Homo sapiens: one gene and its partners. The protein of the gene in region 3 interacts with the protein of the main gene of each other region in a pairwise test. Each region holds a gene or a part of one and is shown on either strand. Other genes may lie near its edges.

Region 1 (4,925 bases), on a different chromosome or scaffold from region 3:
GGCACAGTGGCTCACGCCTATAATCCCAGCACTTCGGGAGGCCAAGACGAGTGGATCACCTGAGGTCAGGAGTTCGAGACCAGCCTGGCCAACATGGTGAAACCCCCATCTCTACCAAAAATACAAAAATTAGCCGGGCATGGTGGTGCACACCCATAATCCCAGCTACTTGGGAGGCAGAGGCATGAGAATCACTTGAACCTGGGAGGTGGAGTTTGTAGTGAGTCAAGATTGTGCCACTGCACTCCAGCCTGGGCAGCAGAGGGAGACTCCGTCTCAAAAAAACAAAAAAACAAAAAAACAAAAAAACAAACAAAAAAAACGATTTTCATCACCCCAAAAAGAAATACTGTATATTAGTGATTGCCAGGGGCTGGGAGAAAGGGGAATACGAAGTGAATGCAGTCACTAATCTATTTTCTGTTTCTGTGGCTTTGCATATTTTGTACATCTCACATGAATAGATATCAATACAGCATATGACCCTTTGAATCTGACTTATTTCACTTAGCATATTTTCCATCATGTTGTAGCATGTATCAGGACTTCATCCCTTTTTATTGCCAGAAAATATTCCGCTGCCTAGATATACCACATTTTATTCATCCATTCATCAGTTAATAGACATTTGGGTTGTTTCTACTCTTTTGCTATTATCAATAATGCTGCTATGAACATCCATGTACAAGTTTTTGAGTGGACTTATATTTCTAGTTCTCTTGGGTATATATCTAGGAGTGGAACTGTACACATAACCCTATGTTTAACTTATCAAGGAACTGCCAAACTGTGTGCCAAAGTGGCTGCACTATTTTACATTCCCACCAGCAATATATGAGTTCCAATCTCTCCACATTTTTGCCAGCACTAGTTATTGCCTTTTTTATTACAGCCATCCTAGGGGGTGTGAAGTAGTATCTCACTGTGGTTTCGATGTGCATTTTCCTGATGTCTAATGATAATGAGCATCTTTATTGGCCATGTGTGTATCTTCTTTGGAGAAGGGTCTATTTAAATCCTTTACCCATTTTATAACTGGATTATTTGTCTTTTTATTGTTGAGTTATAAGTGTTCTTTATACATTCTGGATACTAGACCCTTATCAGATATTTGATTTGCAAATATTTTCTCCCATTCTGTGGGTTGTCTTTTCATTTTCTTGGTAGTATCCTTTGAAGCTCAAAAGTTTTTAATCTTGAAATAGTCTAATTTTAAATGTTCTTTTAAAAGCAAGATGTTATTTGTATATTATATTTAAAAAGTACATACATACTTCGTTCAATTGAGCACCTACTAGGTGTTGGGTTAGGGTATACAGGGAGAAATAAGGCATACCCTCAAGAAAGGCATACCCTCATGGAGTCAGTTTGTGCAGCTGTTGTTAGAAGGCTGGGTTGGCCAGGCTTCTGCCCTAGCTCTGGAGGGTCCTGGGGTGGGATTCGGCAGGCACTGGGGGTGGGAGAGTGGGGGTGCAGAGGGGAGGGAAGAGCCTCTGCATGAAAGCCAGCTGGGAAACAGGTGGAGCTGGACTCTCCTGTGGCCAGGACGGGGAAAGGCACGTCTCTGAGAGCTACAGTTTCTTTCAAGCAGAGTTCTCTGAGCTGGGAAGCAGCAGTGGGGAGGAAAGGAAATCCTGGCTTCTCCCCGAAAGCCATCTCAGGATGCTGCTAAGGGACCAGCCCCAAAGCTACCTGACTTCCTGCCTCTCCAAGAGAACAGAGAGCTCTATCTGGAGTACCCAAGATAGCCCAGGAGGGTGCAAAGGGCTGTCCAAGAAAAGGTCCTAGGGGGCTCCAGTGAACTGCTCACAAATAATTACATTTAGAATATCCTAGAAAATGGTAAGTGTTCAGATACATGTAAGTTACCAATTTACCCCCATTACTGAAACAACAAACCAGTGCCTGGGAATATCTGTTTCCCACCCATTCAGTGCTTTGGCCAGACTGTGACCAAATCATGGCCTAAGGGCAGAGGGCTGAAGGGCTGAATGGAAATCCTTGGTCTTCAGGTTACTGATCTTAAATTCCCACTGCTTTTCATAAATCTCCATCTTATCACCAATAAGGTGATCTAGAAAAGACAGGGTCTCCTCAGAGCCTGCTTGTGCTGTAACTTTTTCTCAACCTGGTCTCTCTTGCAGGACAGTGCCCAAGGAAGTGAGCCAAGCCGATGATACAACTGTCCCCTGCAGCCCTTCCCCGCCCTTGATCCTCCCTCACCCACCTACCGGGATGGCAGCCTGGGGGTCCAGTCCATTCTCCACCACTGAAAGCATCTCCACTCACGCAGCTGCTCCCTCAGAGAATCACATGACACCTGAAGAGACAGATGGCAGCCAGATGAATGGGCAGGGAACTTTCCCCCAGCCAGAGTCCATTCCCAGCAAGCAGCAGGAGGTCAGCCTCTCTTACTCAAACTGCAACCAAAAAGGCCTTTGCAGAACACAAAAGTAAAAACTGATAATAGATTTGAAGGAAAGAAACAAGGAAGGAAAGCCCAGGGGGCTTAGTCGTTGGGAGGCAAGGAGTCCTGGGTGCCAGGGGTGGGTCCACCCCAAGGAGTAGGTGGTAAGGGCGCTTCACATCAAATGCTGCCCAGAAAGCCAAGGCCCTGTAGGATTGAAACCTGTAGGCAGGGAACGACAGGCTGATTCAGATACGGAGCTGCAGGTTCGAGGGGGAGGCTGCAGCTGAAGGTGGCAGGAACCCAATGGGACCAGGAAGCAGGGGCTCACAGGCTCACACATCACATTCAGGGGCTGGGTCCTGCAACACCCTGCCCCCACCCCTCACTCCTGTCCCAGTCCAACATCTGCCAGCTCAGCAGTAAAAAGTACCACTGGAACGGCTTCAAAAGGGGAGGGCTCCCTTGCTACACTTCTGCTCCTCATTTGGGCTTCGAGGGTCTGGCTTGAGCAGCACAGACAGGGACGTGTCTAACCGGGATGACCATGAGGTCTCATCGCAGTTTGCCACTAACCAGGTAGGCATGCTCAGACCTCTCAGATGGAGAATGTGTAAAATGCCTGTCACGGGGCCTGATATGTACCTGTACCTGATATGTTGTACCTGGCATCTGTCATCCCAGTGGATGTGGCCACCTAAACCTACAGACCAAGAATGTCATCACCTAAATGAGTATGCAGGAAGAGCTGAAGTCAGTGAGTGGTTAAATCCCTCAGGGCTGCCAGCTTCCTCCTGGAAGTGGGTGGGGTGGGGTGGGGTGGGGTGGGGTGGGGCGGGTGGGGTGGGGACTTTAGCCTGAGCCTGAGGGGGCTGCTGACTGGCTTGGCCCCACCACAGCAACTTGGACAGACCTGGGCCAGGCAGGCACATTCACACGTAAACAAATCTCTAGCCAACTCCTGGCTGAGCATCAGGGGAAAGGGAAAGGTGATGTCTGTCTCAGCTCTCAATCACCGCACAAAGAAGTTAACAAAACCAAGAAAAGTTAAATGGGCTCAGTTCTCTTTACATATATTGCCTAATTTATGTTCCTCCTAAGGACCCTAGGAGTGCTGTTTTATTGTCTCCACCTGACAGATAAGGAAATGGCAGCTGACCCAGGTCAAGGAAGTTCCTGAGGTCCCAGGGCTGATAAGCGGCCTGACTCCACCACCAGCCCCCAGGAGGAAGCCAACCCCAGCCCTAGGAAAACCCGATTCCTGAGTGAGTGCTGTAAACCAAAAATAAAATTCTAAGCTCCCCAACTGCCTGAATGGGCCCCCCTTGGCCAAAGGGATTTCAAAAAAACTGAAAACTGAGTTCAGGCCATGACACGAAGTGGGGCGTGGGCCATGCCTCATCCTAGCCTCTCCCTTTTGGAGCTTAGACACAACTGACCAGCATTAACATTAAAACAGACTCCTAAGACTGACAGAACAGACTCTCAGCAATTAAGATACCAACTCCAACCTGACTGGTCTAACATCACATGGGAGATAACAGGCCCTAAGGAAATCAAAGTATCTTACCCCCAAGTATATTTTTGACATAGTTTGGAATGGCCCTGCAAAGCCATCTCTTGTTGGGAAAATTTATGTCCTGCAGAGATTCCCTTCCCTTTCTAGGCCTTTTCCTGATTTAGAGGAGATTTAACTAAGAGTCTGACACCTTAGAGACATTTACCATCTATTCTCTTGAAGGCTTCATCTACGTTACATGAACCTTGGCTTTCACAACCCACCTTATCTTAACCCCAAGCTTTTCTTCTGCTGACTTTTAACTCTTTAGGCAAAGTTTAACTTTTTCAGCCAATTGCCAATCAGGAAAATCTTTTAATCCACCTTACCCTGTCCCCACCAATGTATACCTTACATATATCAATTTATGTCTTTGCCTGTAACTTCTGCCTGTAACTTGGATAAAAATCAAGCTGTACCCCAATCACCTTGGGCACATGTTCTCAGGACCTCCCAGGACTATGTCACAGGTCATGGCCCTCACATTTGGCTCAGAATAAACCTCTTCGAATATTTAACAGAGTTTGGCTTTTTCATCAACAGTGCCATCACCTCAGAGCTAGGATTCCAGGGGTGGTCTGGGAAGACCCTTTCGCTGGGGGCCGGGAACAGGGGGTGCAGGGGAACATTAAGGCCAGTGTGGCAGGAAAGGTTTCCTGGACAGCCCTGGAGCAGCATGAGGTTTGGAAAGCAGACAGGCAGGCTGGCCCTAAATGGTGGAAGGTGCTCTGATTGGATCTCTGGCTTCTGGGGATAGCAGAGGGCAAACAGGACACAGGGAGTCAGGACCCAGAGCCAACCTCCCTAAGTCAGGTCCCTCAGGAGGAAGCAGGCATGTATGGAGGATGGTTCCTGCAGACCCAGTAACAGGCCGGGTGCTGCAGATGGCCAGAAGAGCCCTCAGTCCTGACTACAGCCCCATCTGACTGCCTCACCCTTCACCATAGTCTGCTCCCAGCT
Region 2 (4,925 bases), on a different chromosome or scaffold from region 3:
GAACTCTGTGTATGTAGATCTATTTCTGGACTCTATCCTGTTTTGTCAATCTATTTGTCTACCACAGGAAGGTTTTGGGCGGGTGTCATGATCTGATTTATATTTTAAGTAGATCAATCGGGGTGGGAAATAGGATAGGGTGAAAGTGGAAGCAGAACGATCAGTTTGAAGGCTACTCTAATAACCCAGGCTTGAACTGATGGTGCTTGGGTTGGGTATTTGGAGAGGAGACCGTGAGGAGTGGCAGATTTGGGATATATTCTGAAGTTGAGCTGCCAGGGCTTAATGATGGTTTGCATGTGGGATAGGAGGGAAGAGTGGAAAAGGTGAGGGGTCTGCAAGGCTTCTGGTTTGATCAATGGGAAGGACATGGTTGCCATTTAGTGAGATGGGTGCCAGGACGCTCAGGCATCTGTGGTCCAGATTACGAGAAAGGTACAAATCTGGTGAGACAAGAACTGAGAAGAGGCACAAACAGCTCAAAGGGTTGGGGGAGAGTCAGAGAAATCTTCCTGGAGGGGTGGCATTTCAGCTGCGGAGGGCATCCCTGCAAGGGAAGAGGAGGAGCGAAGGCTCATTGCAGGGAGACACATCCCACCCTCGTTGGCCTGATCTTCAAAATCCTTGTTGAATGATTGGATTTTGTGCTCTGAGGTCATCTAATCCGTCCCACTGTCTCACCCAGAGTGCAGGGTGCCCTGATGGTGCAAGGTGCATACACTCACGACTCTTTGGCTCATGGCACATTCCACTGGTCATATCCCCTGGCTCAGTGACGTCTCACCACAGCCCTGACAGGTGGGCTGTAGAGCACAGTGGTTAAGAATGTGAGATCTGGGGCCAGACAGCCTTGGCTGGCTGACCTAAGAAAGGTTACTCTAAACCTGAGTCCCTCACCTCTCAGATGGGAATAATATGATAGCAACTCTCAGCGGCCTCACAGGTTCACTGCAGGTTTAAAGGAGACCTGGTGAGGAAAGCATCTTGCAGAGAGCCTGGCTCTGAGTAGGTGCTCAAAACATTTGTGCAGTTACTATTCTCCCCCTTCATCAGGTCAGAAAACTGAGACTCAGAGACGTTAAGAAGTCTGAATTCTCACTCAGCAGTCGAGGGAGGCTAGGAAGTCAGCCCAGGTGTCTCTTTACTCACCCACCCAATTAGGGCCCTTCATCTTGGTGGCCCTGCTGTGTCCCCCATGCCCCAAATCCCCCGGTGTGTGCAGACCTGCCTGTCCAGGCCCACTGCTTATGAGTGGGCCCTTCTTTCTCTTGCTCTGATGATGAGTGGGGGTGCCCACAGAGGCGGCTCCAGTTAAGGGAGGGCCTGGGATCCAGGACAGAGCAGGCAAGTGCTTTAATGTGGTTTGGGGTGCTGTTGATAGGGGTCACACAGGCCAGCAGAGGCACACCCCCTCTCATCACTAGAAGATGTCAGCTACAAGCTCACTTTTCACCAGCTGCCTTGAAGTCTGTATCTGGCCTTTCATCTTTCTCCTCCTTATTCTTGGTGGGGTGGGGCAAGGGTGCCACCCCGCTGGAAGCCAGAGCTTCCACAAGAGGGGCAGGAGGGGGCTTTCATAAATGAAGCAACCAGGTAAAGGGTGGAGGCTGCTCTGTCAGGGGAGGAAGAGGCCATGGAAGGATGGAGGGTCCAGAGAGAGGAGTGAAGGGCTGGAAAAGCAGGAGGACCAAGAGAGGGGTCGGAGCAGGCTCTGGGTTGGGAAGATCCCAGCACTTAGTACAGGGCCTGGCCTTGTGATGCTTGTAATATCTTTTTTCCCCCCAACTTTTTTTTTTTCTTTTTGAGATGAAGTCTCACTCTATCACCTAGGCTGGAGTGCAGTGGTGCAATCTCGGCTCACTGCAGCCTCTGCCTCCTGGGTTCAAGTGATTCTCCTGTCTCAGCCTCCTGAGTAGCTGGGATTATAGGCACACACCACCAAGCCCAGCTAAGTTTTGTATTTTTTTTTTTTAGTAGAGATGGGGTTTCACCACATTAGTCAGGCTAGTCTTGAACTCCTGACCTCATGATCCACCCGCCTTGGCCTCCCAAAGTGTTAGGATTACAGGCGTGAGACACTGTGCCTGGCCCTGCTTGTGATATCTTTATGGAATGATGAACAAAGAGTACCCAGGAAGTGGGCACCTGTGACAGAGGGACGCCGTGAGGAGGCAGAGTGAGAGGCTTAGAGCAGACTCTGGAGCCTTTGAATTCTCCCCCACTCACCTTGGGCAACTTAACTTCCCTGAGCCTCAGCTTCCTCCTCTGTGACATGGGATAATAATGGTGCCTGTCTCACTGGGTTAATATAAGAGAGGCCACAGTCTGTGGCATATAGTAGGTGCTCACTAAATGTTAGCCTTTATTTTTAGTTTCTGTATGGGCAGGTGGCCTGTGAAAATCAAAAGGCTGCTGGGTGCGGTGGCTCACGTCTGTAACCCCAGCACTTTGGAGGCCGAGGCAGGTGGATCACCTGAGGTTGGGAGTTTGAGACCAGCCTGGCCGATATGGTGAAACCCCACCTCTATTAAAAAAAAAAATTAGCAGGATGTGGTGGAAGGCACCTGTAATCCCAGCTACTTGAGAGACTGAGGCAGGAGAATCACTTGAACCTGGGAGGCTGAGGTTGCAGTGAGCCAAGATCACCCACTGCACTCCAGCCTGGGTGTGACAGAGCCAGACTCTGTCAAAAAAAAAAAAAAAAAAAAAAGAGAGAGAGAGAGAATATCAAAGGTCCATTGTAATGGGTCTTCAGGGAACCAGTCCCATAACCAGTCAAGACACCACATCCTGGGGCTGGTGAGTTCAGTGGTTGGCATGGTAGTGAGTGAAGAAGGCACCAATAAACTTGGCTTGAAATTTCAACGCCGCTACATACAAAGTTAACGACTTGGCAAAGTACTCTACCAACTTGAGCCTCAGTTTTGCTCATATGCAAAATGAGACTACACAGCCAACTTGTGCTTGTGAGGATTGGATGAGAATCCTTGCAGATGTTCCTGGCACATAGTACATACTATCCGTACAAGAAATCCTTTTCTTTGGTATTTGATACTGAGGAGGTGTTGGGTTTTCTGATGGTCCAGATGAAACAGAAGCTCTCTAGAACACCTGACACAAGCTGCAGTCCCAATTCTTGTCAGTTACTGCTCTCAGTCCTTGGTCATGAGTGGCCTGGGTTAGAGGCTGTGGACTGCTCCAGGCAGCCCCTGACACTACAGGAGTTTTGGAGTATGAGCCCAGGCATCTCGGGCTCAGGGAGGAGCTGCTGGGGGCTGCAAATCAAGGTTCAAAGGACATAGGGGAAAGGACAAGCACAGGTCATCGTGCCCATCCCCTGCCCTCGCCCACCCAGTCCATACAAACAACTGGAGATGAGTCTTGTATATTTTCAGCAACGAAGATTCCACATCTCCCCTTTCCCTGCCCTGAGTCAGTGGGGAGGACCAGTATAAGGGGAAGAGAGTGAGTTACCAGGGAACTGCTTTGGGGATCCCTGGGTTGGTGCTCTGTGGGGAGAGGTGCAGATCATGGACATGGATTAGATTCTTGGGCTGAGCTGTCTCTGGGCAGCCAGTGTCCTCTTTGCCTGCCTCCCACATACCCACAGATGACAGGGTTTTCATTGTACTTAAAAGTGTAAGCCGGAGTGATATCCTTCCATGTCCTATGTGTTCCTGACCCCAACCTGGCAAAAATTCCTATGACTTTCAGAATTCTCGAACCCGATCCAGCAAAGCCTGCAACCTCCCAGGTTTGCAACCCTTATGCAGCAACTGTCCTCTGAGCTCACTGGGCTCATATGCAATCCAGAAAATCTCCCTGTCACCTCCCATGTTCCCACCTGTGATGTAGAAAACTCCCCTGAGCATGCCATGACCTCAAGGTTCCTCTCCTTGATCCGACAAATGTCCCCTGATCTCTTGTGCTCCTGAGGCTGACTAGAAAAATCTTGACCTCCCCTGGTCTTCACGCTGACCTATGCTTCTGACTTGACTCAGCAACCCTTCCTGAAGAAACCCGACTCTTGTGTATACTTTATTTACCCAGCAAACATCCTGGTTCCAGTTTTGACCTAGAAAACCTCCCCTGTTTTTAACACCAATCCAGCATATTTCTCTGACTTTCCATCTTTTTTATCTGGACTGTACAAACTCCCTGACCTCTCATGTTGCTGACCCAGCCCAGTGACTCCCTTGCTTTTCCCCAACCTCTTATGTTCCTGACCCAACCCAGCAAATCTCCTCAATCTCTTGTTTCTGACCCTTCCAGAAGACCTCCTAGACCTCCCATGTTCCTGATCTAATCCAGGAACTCCTCTGACCTCCCCTGATCTCCTGTGTCCCTGACCCTATCCAGCAAACTCTTCTGACCTCTCATGTTCTTGGCTCAACCCAGCAAACTACCTTGGCCTGTGGGTACCTCCCATCTTCTCCAATCCAGCTCAGCAAACCTCCCTAAGAACCTGACTCTACCATTTGTGCTCATCCTGACTCCAGTTTGCTCCATCTCCTCCCCCTTTCCATGGCTGTCCTCAGCCCAGGAACCCTATTCCAAGGCTCTCCCCACACCCAGGTCTGCAAGGGCTCTACAGAAGGGCCCCCACCAAGTCTTACCCAGCGTGACCTCTGCCTGCATGGGCATCGACAGAGCTGGGTGCTTGACCTCGCAGCTGAAGAGGGCCTCGTTGTCGATCTGTGGGTTGAGGGTCCAGGTGAGCAGGGCACGTACTTCCACAGTGCCGTCACTGCTCGGGGTGCGGCTGTGGCGCAGGAAGTAGGTGGGCTCGGCGCTGTGGACCCAGCGGGGAAACTCACGGCTCACGACCGTCTCTGGTATGTTCTCTGTGGTTGGCTGGAGGAGGATGTTGGGATCTGGGGTCAGGCCACGGGAGGGGCGCTCCGTGTAGGGTCGCCCACCCCGGT
Region 3 (4,925 bases):
AAGTATTACATTTATTAACGTAATACTTTAAAAAATTGATACAGATCATTTATTATAAAAATTAAAATAGTTCTAAAACCAGGGTTAGAATTCTCCTCCTCCCACCCTTTGCAACTAGAGAACTAATTTTTTTAAGTTAAAGTACACCTTACAAAAAATGCAGGAGGGTTACCTGCTTTTGTTTTTTAATTACATTAAAATAGTATCTTTTTAGGGGCTGGAAGATTTGGCAAATTATTCTAATGCCTGCCTTAATTAAGTTTTACTTCAATGTCAAAACTAAGGTCTTTGTCATGAAGTTTTAATATTAAAAAGCTGTAAATACTGAATTAATGATAATTAGTTAACAATTCAAATCAAAACTTACTTTAATTTTAAAAATAACTAATTAAAGACACATGTTTTCACCTTCTCTCCCTCTACCCTGCCCTATACTGCCTCTCACTCCCACATATCACACTACCTTAACACTTTTTTTTTTTTTTTTTTGCTTTCTAGCCAAGTAAATTGGGCTTATAGGAAGATCTTTAGTTTCCAAAACTAGGTGGCAGCAATGGTTTATGAGAAATTATCAAAGGCAGTTAAGAGCAGTGATAAAACACTACATATATATATATATATTATATATACGTATATATAATATATATATGCAGCAAATATCTTTTACTCCTTCCGTTTTTTTCTACTGAGTTAAGAAATTCATTCAGAAATACTTTAAGTTTCAAATTCCTTTTGGCTTACGCTTATGTCACTTACACTTTTACAAAGTTAAATCTTTCCATTCAACTTCTTCATCAAACTAGCAGGATTTTAAAAAGCTTCCCCCACCTGGTTTATTTTAAAGGGCATTTCCCTTGTGTATGTTTCGTCAAACGGTTCATTCCACTTTCCTTTGAAGTAGATGGCATTGACAAGAACCAGCCTGGTTTCTGCATCAATTGAGCTACCCGGCAACAACTCTTCAATTTTACCTTTCAAGAAAAGTAGAGACTACATTCAGTTGCTTTTTATAAGAACCTGATGCATTGGATGATCCTGGATCATTAGTTGAGAAGCAAACTTCTGTTTTCAACTTTGCTGAGTTTGGGTTGTTATGTAGAGAAATAAAAACAGCACATATGAGTGGTATTCATGATTACTGACACCTTGAGAACATCCACCAAGTTGAGGATGGTGAAAGATACCTAAGTCACTCGAGGAAAGCAGGTTGGTACAAAGTAGAAAAATTACACCAGGTTGGAGAACAAGACCAGCAGGAAATGTGATAGGCTGAAGGGGTGTTTGTCTCACATGGTTAATTGGAGTGTTTGATCCAACCCTTCATGATCACACCCAGTTCTAACATTCTGTGACTATACATGGACATGTCAGAAGCAACCAGAATGGACGGCTCAAAGCGGGAAGAGCTGACATTGGGCACATGGGGAGTTTCCAGAAGCTTTTGGAGGAGATATTCCTGCTGAATCCCCTCAACAAAGCACTAGGCATCCCTGGAAAAGAGGATGTGGGCAAACAAAGATCACCCCTTCTTTCCCTGGAGATCAAGTGGTACTGTTTCAATGAACTGAGGGCATCCCTGCTAACCCACTGCCTGAAGAGAGCATCCGTGGTAAATACTCCAAGCAGGAATGCGGGAAACAACTGCTGAGACTTTAAGCGAAGAACGTCTCCCATTCTTTACCGTCTCATTTATTCACAGAAATGGAAATGTTCCTGGTGGTACTAAGCATAATTGGCGCAGAGGAGTCTGAATGGTTCATCAGACCATCATTGGTCTTGGAGGCCTAGACTGGAACACGTCACTTTCTGAAATGTAGATGAATAAGGTTCAACCCCAAATGGAGGGTATTTTCAGTCTGTGGAACTGATCAGCCCTGAGAGAGGGTCGGCAGTTAACCAATCAAATGTAGGCTTATCAAGTCAAACTAAAGGAGCTTAAGTGGAAGACATGAAAAGTCAGGAGTGACCTTAGCAGGTAAAGGTAATGGTGATGGAGGTCCCCCAGAACCTAGGAAGAGGCAGCCCAAGTGTATACCTCAGGCAAGATCTGTCCACCAATCTCCTTCTCGCAGAGACAATGGAGTCACCTGACATGTGAATGTTACAGGCCAGGGAGAGTATATTTTAATGCAAGTTATTAAACTGGAAACCTGGCCTGAGATTCTTTTGACATTTGTTTTTTTGTTTGTTTTTTGTTTTTGAGACAGGCTGGAGTTCAGTGGCATGATCTCAGCTCACTACAACTTCTGCCTCCCAGGTTCAAGTGATTCTCATGTCTCAGCCTCCCAAGCAGCTGGGATTACAGGCATGGGCCACCACACCTGGCTAATTTTTGTATTTTTAGTAGAGATGTTGGGCGGGGGGGGGTCCCACCATGTTGGTCAGGCTGGTCTCGAACTCCTGACCTCAAGTGATATGTCCACTTCGGCCTTCTAAATTGCTGGGATTACAGGCGAGAGCCACCGTGGCTGGCCCTCTTTTGACATTTGTATCAGCTACTCTGGTCCTGGGAGAATAGACAAAAGTAAATCTCTGTTGCTGAAAACCTGAATGTCTGATCAGAACCTTTATGAGTCCATCAAGGTTCAGTATGCCAGGAGGCCCTGCCAGTCAACACTACTCTGACCATCTGAAACACCCGTGAAATTAGAGGGGGCGGAGTGGAGAGGTGGAGGTGGGTGAGGAGAGGGAGGAGGGATAGGAGGGAGAGGAGGAGGAGAGAGGATATAAGAGGCGGGAAGGAGGAATAGGAAGAGCCGCAGGAGGAGGACGGGTTGGGAGGAAGGTGCAATAACTTGTCATTCTGACCTTCGGTCTTTTTTGAGACCCAGGTGTTGATGTGTTTCCTGGACTCTTCTGCAGCTCTGATAAAGGAAAGCTCCTTCAGCTCAGCATGGTAGAATTGAAGACAGGATTCCTTAAACGTCTTTGGAGAGAAAAATGTTCAGTGAGGCTGCATTGCTAAATACAAATGTCAGCAAACTTCCAAAAATTCTAAATATGTTATCTTTTTTTAATAAAAAGAATATACATAACTCTTTAAAAGTGATCATATGAAGATATGTTAAAATATCAGAGTTTGTGAATAGGTATGTATTGAACCCTGAATAACCAGAAATGAACTTGAGAATTTTACCTTTCAATTTTACCTTTCAAGAAAAGTAGAGACTACTTTTGCAATACTAATGCAAGGTATAATTATAGAATTGCAGTCTTTAAAAAAAAAAAGAAGTTTAGGCTGGGCGTGGTGGCTCACATCTGTAATCCCAACAGGCAGGAGGATCACTTGAGACCAGGAGTTTAAGACCAGCCTGGGCAACGTAGTGAGACCCCATCTTAGAAAAAAAAATAGTGCAATTTTTTTAAATTGGTTAACATAAATTTCTCAATTTCTCTAGGGTCTTTCTCCCAGACTCTATATCACCAGGTATGTTGAATGCAACTTTTATTGTTCTATTGATTCAACTTACTGAGAGGAACTGACAAGTTTTCTCTCCAAAGAGCCTGTTGGCCGTTCTCAGCAGGTACTGTGTGCCAGCCTTGTTCACTTCAGTGAGAAGCGACTGGAAAGCCCGATGAATGTCTTCCTCTGTGTTTAAAGACAGTGCCTGTTGTGAAAGATAATTTTAAAAGTTATCAAGATAGCTCTTTGATGGCTGGGGAGAGGAGAGAGAGGGGACAGAAAACAGGCGAGTAAAAGATGTAGCCATTCTGCCTGAATGGATCTCGCTTGTTTAAAGATCAGTAACACACAAAAAATGACAAGGGTGAGAAAAGCTCAGAAAAGAGGTTGTGATAAAATCTTGCATCAAAAGGAAAATATAAATGTACCCTAAGTGGTGGGAAAATTACCTCTAAAATTTATAGTGAAAAAAAAAGATGCAGTTAAAAAGTTAAAAGCAGAAAAAATGCATGGAAAAATAGACGGAAATACAATCATCAGAATCCTCAAAAGGAAACAAGGATATTACATGAGCAATGTGATTAATAAGACAATAACACAGTTATTAAAATTGTACCCTATAGGGACTACATGTGTGTATATTAAATATTTCAAAATATATCACACATATTGGGCCATAAGAAAAGTCTCAACATCCCAATACATTCTGAAATACAGAATTATATAGATCATATTCTCTAACTTCAATGTAGTAACAAAAAATCAGCATTATAAATAAAATGCCAACAAAATGAAAATCACCTACAAAATATTACTGAAAACACTTTTCTAAATAATTAACTCTTCAAAGTAAAAATTAAAATACTTTTCTAGGCCAGGCACAGTGGCTCATGCCTATAATCCCAGCACTTTTGGAGGCCAAGGCAGGAGGATTGTTTGAGCCCAAGAGTTTGAGGCTAGCCTGGGCAACATTGCAAGATCCCATCTCCACTTAGCTGGGCATGATGGTGTGTGCCTGTGGTCCCAGCTACTTGGAAGGCTGAGATGGGAGGATTGCTGGAGCCCAGGACTTTGAGGCTGCAGTGAGCTATGATCAAGCTGCTGCACTCCAGCCTAGGAGACAGAGCAAGACCATGTCAAAAAAAAAAAAAAAACACAAAAAATCCTCTTCTAAACAAATATTTAAAATATTCTTCTAGGCTGGGCACAGTGGCTCATGCCTGTAATCCCAGCACTTTGGGGGGCCGAGGCGGGCAGATCACTTGAGGTCAGGAGTTCAAGACCAGCCTGGCCAAGATGGCGAAATCCTGTCTCTACTAAAAATACGAAAATTAGCCGGGTGTGGTGATGCTTGCTGGTAATCCCAGCTACTTGGGAGGCTGAGGCAGGAGAATCACTTGAACCCAGGAGGCGGAAGTTGCAGTGAGCCAAGGTCATACCACTGCACTCCAGCCTGGGCAACAGAGCAAGACTCCTTCTCAAAAAACAAACAAACAAACAAATTCTTCTAAATAAGTATATG
Region 4 (4,925 bases), on a different chromosome or scaffold from region 3:
AGCTACTGATACTTTTAATAAAGTAATTTTGTCTTAAATTTTTAAGTTTACCTATAATATAGGGAGTGAAATAAAGCTGTGATTTGAGGAATATTTGTGCTGCCAGGACCATTTAATCCTATATACAAGAGGTAGGATTGAGTATAGAAATATCACTATTAAACTTTTGGCTTTTTTATTACTGCTGTCTGAAGTTAAATAATCCTGTTCTGTTCTTGAACCTAATTCAATTGCTGACCCCACCTCTAGTATAGAATAAGGCACAGAGATGTCATGAAGGGTGAAGCTAAGGCTCAGGGTCATAGGCCATTAAGCTGCATACTTGATCACTTCAGAAAGGGCCATATGAAAACAAGTCAGCTAGCAGGATGAGGGGGAAAAAATAAAATAATAAAGTCTTATTCTGAAAATTTGATTATATTGTGATTTTGATTAAAATCTGAATATTCTCTGATGGCTCCATAGTAGTTTAAAAAAATCACACTTTTAATAGATTTAGCTACTTAACAATGGATTATGTGTACATTTAAAGTTGTTACAGATGGACACCTGTGCAGTTTTGTAGGCTTTTTGAGTCTGTATTTAAAGGAAGAATGAGGTAAAAAGAGGCTCTTAAGAGCCACATTAAGGCTGGTGTGGTGGCTCACGCCTGTAATCCCAGCACTTCAGGAGGCTGAGGTGAGCAGATCACTTGAGGTCAGAAGTTCGAGACCAGCCTGGCCAACGTGGCAAAACCCTGTCTCTACTAAAAATACAAAAAAATTAGCCAGGCATGATGGTGGGTGCATGTGGTCCCAGCTACTCAGGAGGCTGAGGCACGAGAATCACTCGAACCCAGGAAGTGGAGGCTGCAGTGAGACAAGATTGCGCCACTGCATTCCAGCCTGAGTGACAGAGCAAGGCTCTGTCTCAAAAAGGCCACAGTACAATCCCTTATTTTCAGGTTCAGACACCACAAGAAGTCTGTAATTAGCTTTCCAACTTCTATGTAATCTCAGTAATAAGAATACATTATTTTTAATGTCATATAATTCCTTTATAGTGATATTTGGGGCAAACACGACTGCCAGCCCCTAGAGGCCACATCTGTGTGACTTCTGAATTAATTCTCATAAAATATGTCAAGCAGAACTGAATAAAAGAAAATGAACAACCCTCCCCAGTAATATATGAGGGTTAGAAAAGGCATGAGTCAGCAATGTCTGTTGTACACAGTTAAAAACTTTTATGTATTATAAGAAGTCCAAACTTCCTCCACATTAATACATTAGCATTAGACTATCCTGCTTCAGCCATTAGATCCCTGTCCCATCGGTAATAATAATAGCTAACATCTCAGTGCTAACCATATGCCAAGTACTGTCTTAAGCATTATATGTACATAATCTCATTTAATCCTCAAAACAACTCTTTAAGTTGTACCAGGTACTGTTACTATTTCCATTTTACCAATGAGGAGACCAGAGAAGTTAAATGACTTGCTGGCATCTCACAGTAAATGGCAGAGTTTGGGTTCAAACCTAGACAGCCTGACTCCAGAACTCACACTCTTTTTTGGGCTTTCTTGTTTTATTTCTAAACTGTTATACAGAGTCCTTAATAAGGTTATACCTCATCTGCTTTTTCTTTTGGTAAAGGATAGAGAAATTAGCAAGCTACCTGATTTTAAGAAGTTTAGTGCTACAGGTTGAATATCCCTTATCTGAAATGCTTGGGACCAGAATTGTTTCAGATTTCAAATTTTTTTTTTTTTTTTTGGAATATTTGCAATACAGTTACCAGTTGAGCATCCCAAATCTGAAATCCAAAATACTCCAATGCACATTTCCTTTGAGTGTTATGTCAGCACTCAAAAAGTTCCAGATTTTGGATTTCAGATTTTTGGATTAGGGATATTCAATCTGTAACAGTTATATTTTCTTTGTAAGGCTGTCTTAAATCATTTCTACAAAATTGTCCCTCCCTAACGAGGCAAAAGCTTATAAATCTATCAGGTAAGTGCTACCTTTCACATATTCTTTGTAGTGCCAAATAATAGGGAGGATACCCAGGAATTTAAACAAAATTGGTTATGTTGTGCGGACAAAGGGCAATTATTTTAACTATACATCTATTTTGTTTTACTGCCTGACTTCTGAGTCGTATCCAATACCATGGAATTTTCCAGTGGTAGAAAATCTCTCAAAATCAAAGTAATAAGAGATAAAACCCTTTCCATCTGGGTATTCAAAAAATAAGAACAAAACATTATTTTTTTTGAGGAACTCTTAGGGTCTAAGGAAGCATTTTATTGAGATTCTTTTCATTCAAAGGCCTACAAATTTATCTCTCTTCACTAGGAAATCCTTTTTTTCTTCCTTGAATCTCTTTCTTTTCATTTTGATATTTCAGATATGTAGGTTTCATATTTACTTAACCAGTCAACATTATACCTTGTAGCATGTTAACAAATTCATTTAAATTTCATGAAAACAATTCTGTAAATAAAAAGATGGCTTTCTATAGATCACTAGGTTATTTTTATTTTGTTTTCTAGGAAATAACAGTACAACAGCTAATGGCTCATTTGGATGCTATCAGGAAAGACATGGTCATCCTAGAGAAAAGTGAATTTGCAAATCTGAGAGCAGAGAATGAGGTGATACAAATTTTAATTTATTACTTATAAAATAACTGATCTCATAATAAGCATCCTACTTAAGGAATAAGTTAATAAGACCAAGTAATAATTCCATGTGGTTAGTAAACAATAAGTTTTTAGATTTAAAAACATACTATTTGTTTAACCATACCTAATCTTTTTCTATATAAATCATAGTGCTTTGCATACTGAAGAGAATAAGAGTTACATTTTATACATATAAAACCACATAAAACAAAATCTTTGAGCTATATATATAAAATTTGTATATAATGGTTTCAGAGCTGAGAGTAATACGGCATTTTCTATTTTATTTAATCCTGTACTAAATGTCTTTGTGACTTAAAAGTATATTTCTGTAATTAAGTCAGAATTTTAAGTTATGTTATCCACTATAGCTTATTTTTAAATTTAGAAAATCAGTTTTTAAAAGTATAATATAAAAACAAATGCATTTTGCTCATAAGAATTATTTTCTGAATACAGTGGCTTACTAGTTTCTTTTGAAGATTTTTTTCCTTATCAATTCTGTATTAGAAATCCATAGATTGTCCAAATTTTGGTAATCTAGGGTTTCAGATTTTTTTAATCATAATATAGACTTGGTTTAATGCTAATTGCATGTGATCTTTCCTGTACCTAGAAAATGAAAATTGAATTAGACCAAGTTAAGCAACAACTAATGGTAAGTGAATTTTTTTTCTAGCTGTTAATTTCAGAACAAATATTCGTTACAAGATCATTTTTTAAATATCTTTGCTTTCTTTAAAGCATGAAACCAGTCGAATCAGAGCAGATAATAAACTGGATATCAACTTAGAAAGGAGCAGAGTAACAGATATGGTAATGTTCTTTTAAATGTACTTTCTTGGTTACTTACTCCTTTTTTATTTTTAGACTTTTTTTTTAACTTCCTGCTGCTTCATATCCTATAGTTTACAGATCAAGAAAAGCAACTTATGGAAACAACTACAGAATTTACAAAAAAGGTAAAGTAATATGTAAAAATGTCTCTTTTGTACAGTTCTTGTGCCTTGTATAACTGCTTTTATGTGTACCAGTTTATAAGTTTAGACTTTTAAAAACTACCCTTGTAGAGTCTCTGGCTTCCTCATAGCTATTATAGTTAACCAGCACTTTTGGGGAACCTGGCACCAGGTAGATGGTCGCCCATGAGCCATGACCTTGAAGTAAGAATCAAGATTTCCACATAGTGTGCTTTTTTAAACTAAATTACTTCTATAATAGAAAATAACTATTTTTTGGGCCAGGCACAGTAGCTCACACCTGTTAATCCTGCACTTTGGGAGGCTGAGGCAGGAGTTCAAGACCAGTCTGGGCAACATAGCAAGACCCTGTCTCAAAAACAAAAAAAAAAAAAAGAAAATAACTATTTTTTAAAAGACAAAGATTCACTATTGGTATTTCATAATTGGTACTTAAATGAGTGCCTAGGTTCAGTTAAATAATTATCTTAAGGTTTTAAAAAAGCTATATATTAATAACATATAAACACTAATATTTAGTGTTTATTTAATGTGCCAGATACCATTTTACATGCTTTACTTATATCTGTTAATTCACTTAATATTCATTTCAGTCTCTGTGAGGTAGGCACTATTATTCCCATTTTAACAATTTGGAAAATGAAGCACAGAGGGGTTAAGGTCCCACAGTTAATAAGTGGTGTCACTAGGGAAAAGAACCTGGATTCTAAATCCCTAACTTGGAACTACTGCTCTCCTTCTCAGTAATCCTACAATGTAATCATGACTTCATCTCTGTGGCTTGAGTAAAACCCAGCTTTCTGACTCAGCCTTGTCCTTTTCTTAAAAGTTCAAAGCCATTTGTCCACATTCTAACAGAAAATATGTCACTCTTGCTCATAATTTAATAGAAGAGAAGGTCACATTTGTTCTTTCAAAGATCTTATTCTCTTCCCTTACTTCTTGGCCAGATAAAGGAGATAAGCAAGGAAATCAGCAAAATCTTTTACAACTACTTTCTGTGCTCTAGGTCTCATCTGTCCTCCCTACCCTTTGTCCCCTATACCTGTATCAGTGTTACCCATCAGGTTATTTATGCCAGTTCCTTTAATACTGGCGCCAGTTCATATTATACACCTGGTTATTTTTTTTTCCATTTGCAGAATATATTTAAAGTTTTAACCATAATATCCTAAGGACTTCACACACATAAAATGATAGTTCTGTGACCTAATTTTTTGCTTCTTAGTTTATCATCTTATGTATTCAGGTATAAATATGTTATTATGAGGTTTTTA

Evidence for each region. The genes of interacting proteins can lie anywhere in the genome.
Region 1: the proteins of SERPINB9 (region 3) and PLEKHM1 interact in a two-hybrid assay, tested with the Homo sapiens proteins (one large-scale study listed by BioGRID and IntAct).
Region 2: the proteins of SERPINB9 (region 3) and IGSF21 interact in a two-hybrid assay, tested with the Homo sapiens proteins (one large-scale study listed by BioGRID and IntAct).
Region 4: the proteins of SERPINB9 (region 3) and CCDC90B interact in a two-hybrid assay, tested with the Homo sapiens proteins (one large-scale study listed by BioGRID and IntAct).

Annotation. Positions count from the first base shown.
Region 1 is NC_000017.11:45,480,206-45,485,130, forward strand, and holds part of PLEKHM1 (pleckstrin homology domain-containing family M member 1), read right to left. Parts: intron 2,321-4,925; coding exon of another isoform or gene 2,280-2,320; coding exon 2,232-2,279; intron 1-2,231. UniProt on the Homo sapiens protein: Acts as a multivalent adapter protein that regulates Rab7-dependent and HOPS complex-dependent fusion events in the endolysosomal system and couples autophagic and the endocytic trafficking pathways.
Region 2 is NC_000001.11:18,365,389-18,370,313, reverse strand, and holds part of IGSF21 (immunoglobulin superfamily member 21 precursor), read right to left. Parts: coding exon 4,617-4,925; intron 1-4,616. UniProt on the Homo sapiens protein: Involved in synaptic inhibition in the brain. Selectively regulates inhibitory presynaptic differentiation through interacting with presynaptic NRXN2.
Region 3 is NC_000006.12:2,892,583-2,897,507, forward strand, and holds part of SERPINB9 (serpin B9), read right to left. Parts: intron 3,609-4,925; coding exon 3,471-3,608; intron 2,927-3,470; coding exon 2,809-2,926; intron 972-2,808; coding exon 829-971; intron 1-828. UniProt on the Homo sapiens protein: Granzyme B inhibitor.
Region 4 is NC_000011.10:83,272,352-83,277,276, reverse strand, and holds part of CCDC90B (coiled-coil domain-containing protein 90B, mitochondrial isoform 1 precursor), read left to right. Parts: intron 1-2,536; coding exon 2,537-2,638; intron 2,639-3,284; coding exon 3,285-3,326; intron 3,327-3,412; coding exon 3,413-3,484; intron 3,485-3,576; coding exon 3,577-3,630; intron 3,631-4,925.